Regions from separate parts of the Homo sapiens genome. Here region 1 is linked to region 2. The links come from fine-mapping of genetic effects on gene expression. Tissue or cell type: esophagus mucosa. Region 2 holds a variant in brackets; the other region holds the start of a gene. All regions are shown on one strand. Distances are between the middles of the regions. Region 1 holds the start of DRC11 (dynein regulatory complex subunit 11). Region 2 has its middle 210 kb from the start of COPS8-DT.

The links. PIP is the estimated chance that this variant, and not a neighbour inherited with it, causes the effect. A credible set is the group of variants that fine-mapping cannot tell apart.
Region 1: it holds the start of DRC11, and the variant in region 2 is the best candidate, but not a certain one, in a credible set for the expression of DRC11 in esophagus mucosa (GTEx, PIP 0.53).

Annotation. Positions count from the first base shown.
Region 1 is chr2:236,505,980-236,508,889 of GRCh38, reverse strand. It overlaps DRC11 (dynein regulatory complex subunit 11), which reads left to right and starts at 1,414. Exons shown (of 19, transcript NM_024726.5): 1 at 1,414-1,633. The coding sequence starts at 1,623. RefSeq lists a silencer at 1,239-1,288.
Region 2 is chr2:236,874,275-236,877,184 of GRCh38, reverse strand. No RefSeq gene overlaps it. Among named protein-coding and RNA genes, the nearest start is that of COPS8-DT, 210 kb to the left of the region's middle. The variant C/G (reference allele first, on the strand shown) is at 1,218.

The sequences.
Region 1 (2,910 bases), 370 kb after region 2:
TATCTGAGTTCCAGAGCTGAGATACTGCACTTTTCTCTGCTTTTCTGGAACCTGAGTACACATTTAGGATAAGGACTGCTCCCTTGAATCCACACAACTTCCAGGCTCTGTGCTCTCTTCTGAGATTTTGATAAGCTCCTTTACCACCATCCTCCCACTCTTGTCACGAGTGTGCCCTATTCCTGTGACAACATGCCCTTTGACTTTGAATCTTTGCCTCAATTCAATGTAGGGACCTAGAAAAAGGCAAGCCCTGGAGATTTCTCCTGTCCCTGCTCAGGTCCTGGGAGCGGTAGGGATTGACCTCCACTCAGGATGGTTTTATCTGGCCGGATTTCCCCAGGTGTTTCCTCGTTCGGCTCACCCTTTCATACCCCTTCTTTTCAGTGTGTGTATTCTTTGCATCAAAAAGCATTAATGAGAATTCTTGGTGTTGTGTCTACTTGGTCTCTGCCCCCTGAAGGGCTTTGGGAGGGTGGAGATGAGGCTGGACACCATTCTCCACGGCAAGCTGCTATTTCACTGAGTTTTTGAAGTTTACGGTACAAGGTTGTACTCAATTTCTCGTCTGAGAAATAATTTGCTCCATTATTTGAAGGCGGTGCGGAGGGCTGGCTTTTACTATGCTTTTGCGCATTTCATTAGTAATGGTGGGGGAGAGGTTTTGTGATCCTGATTATAATTTTTACCTGGATGTCCTCTCCACGCCTTTGACAGCATTAAACCTGGCGTTCCAATAGGAGCTGCAGGGTCTAAAATGTGCAAATAAACCTCAACAGTTACTAAAGTCGAAGAAAGAAGAGCAATGAAAGCCAACACTCATAGCGACTTACGGATAACTGTTAATAGCATCCACACTGCATTTTACATTTACAACGCACCCGCGCCTTAGTTCATACTCATTAAGTCTCCGAAGGGCGCGTCTGCCTAAGTCTTGGGTGCCCAGAATCTAAGTCTGCACTTGGCCCAGAATAGATGCCCAGTAAAGTTCTGAACGAACGACTGTTATACCCAGTTTACAGATGGGAAAACTGAAGACCACCATCATTAAGGGCCTTGCCCAAGGCCGCAGAGCTGACAGTGGATGAAAATGGGGCCAGCAGGAAAGCGGGAAGACGGCCTGGAGGACCACAGGCTAAGTGCTGGGGCCCGGAGCAGGCTCGCCAAGCGGCCGGGCCCCGCGACGGAGCGCTCGGACTCCGACCGGCTCCCACAGCTGCGCCCACCCAGGCCTCCCGCGGTGGCGCAGGCGCGGAATGCGGGGGGCGGGGGGGGGGAGGGGGCAGGCGGAAGGCAATGCGCAGGCGCGGCGTTTCCGTTGCTAGGGCCGCGTCGCGCCCACCTGAGTGGCCGAAGTGAGGTTCGCGAGTCTCTGGGTCGCGACGGGAAGGAGTGAAACACCTCTCTGCGCCTGCGCGCTCCGTGCCTGCGAAGCAAACCCGGCCTCACCTTTTCCTGCCCGAAGCAGAAGATTCTCGCAGTCCTGGTTTCTCCCTCCAGAAGACCCCCCACCCAAATCCTCTGTAGCTCCTGGTAGTGCCCTGACCCCTGCTGCCACCGTCCTTCAGAGAGCAACGGAAGAGCTTCCCGGAGGGCGAGGAAAAGAGGGAAAGTAGCCAGCAATGTCGAACGCGTAAGTGATGGGCTCCCAGCCACAGCCATGGAGTGGGCTTCCCCAAGCCAGAAGGTGGCTTGCTTTCTGCTTCTCTTATTTTCTTTTTTCTTTTCTTTTCTCCTCCCCTCTCAACTTCCCTCCTCTCCCCCACTTTTTTTCCTTTTAGGAAATTCAAATATGCCTCGGGATAGAGTATCTGCTTCTTGTGAGCAAGGAAAATCATACACTTAGATCTCCCCCTCCCCTACGCGTCCCACCACCCCATGGGGATGAGCTCCCAGTCTTCCGTATACCTGCCAAGCCCTTAGGGGCTATTGCTGAGAAGCACTATGCCATTTTGTCTGCTTTTTTTGTTAATCTTTCACGGTAACAAATACGGTGCTTTGTGGAAACACCTAGGTCCTGAAATTTAAGTCTAGAAAGATCTTGGGAAAGCATTATTGACATTTGCTTTTCACAGACTCGAGTGGCATTGGTACTGAAAGAAGTGTGTGCCTAGCACTGTGTCGTTTACACAGCACTTGCACAAAGTTACCTCATTTGGTCTTCGTAAGAATAATTTCCAACAGGTATTACAGCGCTGACCCTGTAGACACTGTTCTAACCGCTTCACAGCAACCCTGTAACGTAGGGGCTGTTAATATTGTTATTTCCATTTTACAGATGAGGGAACTTGGGGATGAAGAGGTGAAGTAGTTCACACAGCAAGTGAACAGTGCCAAGCCGGGCACTGTAGCTCCAGCCTGCACTGTTGCTATTACGTGCCCTGTATTCTAGGCAAGGAAATAAGAGCAGAGAGGTTAAAGGCTTGCCAGGGTTTGGAAATGGGGAAGATCAAGAGTTCTGTTTAAGACGTATTGAGTTGGAAGTGCCCATTGGACATCACGTGGAGATGAAATAGGCAATTAAAATATTCAGATCTTGGGTTCAGGAGCGAGACCCATGTCTGAAATATAAACTTGCTCACTGTCAGCCTGTGATGGTCTTTGTGAGACATAGAATGAATATTAATAAAGAGGTGTAAGGACTGATCCTGGGATCATCCACAGTAAGGCTGGGGGAAGAGGAGACCTGGCAAAGGAATCAAAGACATGATCCATGAGGAAGAAGCGAGTGGAAGAAATAATAGTGTTTCCAGGAGAAGTAACTTCTTTCTCCTCCATCAAGTGCTCCTGAGACAAGTTGGGGTAGAACTGAGAACTGACTGTTGATTTGGCAGTGTGGAGTTCACCAGTGACCTTGACAGGAGCTGATTCAGTGGTATGATGAGATAGAAAGACTTACTCAAGTGAATG
Region 2 (2,910 bases):
CAACAATGAGACAACAGAAATAGATGTTTCTTCCTGATGTGAAACATTAAATTAAAAATAATAGCAATGAAAGTAGGTGGTACCTTTGAAGGGCAATATGACATTACTTAATAGGGCTTATTGTAATAATTTAAAAAGATAAAATTTCGGGAATTTTCTTCCTCTACCTAAAAAAGAAAGTCAACACTTTCTTTTAAGCAGTTAATGGGTATTTCAAAAATCTCCCAGTGAATCCACATCATTGTGAATGTTAATTAACTAACAGTCCAGGCCCCAATCCAGACAGTTAATAGCTTGTGTCTATGCTAGCTTTCCTGTTCTTACCTGAACAGTCTGTTTATTTAAGTGGCTTTAGTGGTTCTTAACCCATCGAAAGTGTTAGTTTAACAAAGAATACCAAACAATTAACCTCTGGTGGAAAAAAAAGGAAACGATTAAAACAAACAAATTTATCGCTCTGTTAGGTTCTGCAAACACCATCTTGATGAGCTAAAAACCCCTAATAAAATAGCAGTTACACTCTGCCTAAAAACATAGATCTCAGTTATCATACAATGTGGATTACCACCAAAATAGATGGGTGCAGTGGGTGGTTGGTCTGCATGAAGCAAAATGGTGGATGTGACAGACTGCTTTTCCATGGAATTGGCTGAGCATCTGATTTTGTTGTCATGAGATCACAGGGAGGAACTCTGCATGGTCCTTGTTATGCAGAGCTGGGGCAGAAGAGGAAAGTGATATCCCCAGAGGGCCTGTGAGGTCTTCAGACCGAGGCACAAGCTGGTGCCAAGAGCCGCCTGGACCACACACTGGAGAGGCGGTGGAGAGAAGGAGAGAGGAAACTCAGAGGGCAGGTCGTCCACGGCAGCCTCGGTCAGCCCGGACAACTGGCCGGACACACCAGGCTTTCCTTTTCCTGGCAGGCACATCAGGGCAGCCAGAGAGGCAGCCACCTTCCTCCAGCCAGAGACTCTGCAAACCCATCTGGACAGCAGGTCAAGGCCCCGCTCCAGAGGCACCATCACTCTCCCCATGGCTGACCTCTTCCTCGCCAGGTGACTGGAAGACAGGATGAGATAGGGCCGGCAGACTGGATTTCCCCTCGGGTGGCTGGGGGCCTCTTTGACGGAGTGCAGGTGTCCTTGCCAGCTCCCATCCAGGCCGTCCCCACCCACTTCCCTGCAGCCCTCTGAGCCTGGGCGTTCACTGCAATGACT[C/G]ATTTGCTCTGTGTGTCTGGAAGCACGTTGGTAGGGTAGGGAGGTGGGTACCACCCTAGCCTAAGGTGCACACTGCTTTATGTTCTGAAGTCCTTGCAGAATGTTCATTCTAACCTACTAGCTTTCAGGGACAATTAGGAACAATATAATATTTCCTTCTCAAAATAGCCTCCAAGTTGCAACTGTAGGAAGAAGTTTTGTCTAACCCTTAGCTGGCCCTGGCTCCTGGAAAGCTGCATAGGGAATCCTCATGATCAGAAAAATGTCAGGCTCTTAGCAGATCACTCACAATCTGCTTTTTCTCCTGGGATCTTCTGCCAGATGGATCCTGGGGTTCTCTCCGTGCCTTTCTCCACCTCCTTTCTTGGGGTTCCCAGGACCTTCCCTGTCCCCTTCCGCTCCAGGCACTGGCTCTATCTTGGAGGGTGATGGCCCATACTTGAGGCTTTAGCTCTTCCAGCTTCTAAGACAAACAACACTGTCTCTTGCTATTATTCAACACTTTTCATAGCTTAATAAACTCAATCAATATCTTGTTACTCTAATGAAGTCTCTGGCTAGTTAACACAGTATTACCAAAAAGCCTCTCCCCTACAAGTAGTGTGGAAGGAAAGGAAAGGAGAGGGTGGGGGCAGCCATGCTGCCTTTTCTCCCCTTCACAAGGTGTATGGGCATGGACCCTCATAGCAATGTCCCAGCCTCCCCAGCCAGCAGGCATGGATGTGACTATGGGTCCATCTCACAGTGAGGGTCCCTCTGACGTCTTCAGTTCAAGGACAACAGGCTCCACAGTTCCCCTGCTTTGTCCAGCAAAGAGTCCTGATGTTTGAGCTTTTTATCATAAAAGGAAAAGCTAATGCATACCAGAGAAATTTGAAACCCAGCTTGACATCCCCTGGGGCAAAAGTGCATGGTGGCAGGTTCAAAGGACAGGGCAGGAGACATGGGCCAATTACAGCGGGAAGAACTTGTTTGTTTGAAGAGGCAGGAGAGTCGCAGGAAGGGTCACCTTTCATTAGCTGTAGATACATTCCTAAGGCAGCTCCTCCAGGTACTCAGTAAGTTCTTAGAAAATTGGGGTGGGATTGAACTTTGCTAATTTAAGGGTCCATCACCAGTGGCTGTCGCCTGTCTCCATCTAAGCATGCTTATATTCCCAGCCCTTTTCATTTCCATTTGGCCCCACGTGACCCCAGTTTCTGAATACAAAGACATAGGGGCTAGATCCCTTAGGTGAGACTCTACGGAGCAACACGCAGCGTCTTATTTCCATTTGACAGATTTCAGAGGAAAGTAAATTTGGTGCAAAAATATAGAGGCACCGTGACCTAAGATTAAGAGAGAGGTGGAAAAAAAATGCCAGAATCATTTCTTATTTGTAGCAATTGGCCCTTGATGTAGAACAGTGCGTTATACTCTATAGAATTTCAATAAAGTCTAATTGGTTATGGTCAAGAATTTCTGGAGCATTTGGGGAAAATACTGATGCATCTGAAGTTCACTTTTAAGGTCTGTACTGAGTATGCTATCCACAGTTTCTTTTTTGTTTGTTTAATAGATGTTTATTATACATTTTACAACACATTTCAAGTCAAAGAGACAGCTAGGTTTCTGCTGAAGACTGAATTTCAGCAGCAAATTTTGAAATCTGTGATGTGTGCATATTAAACCATACAGACCTTCACATCAGAGG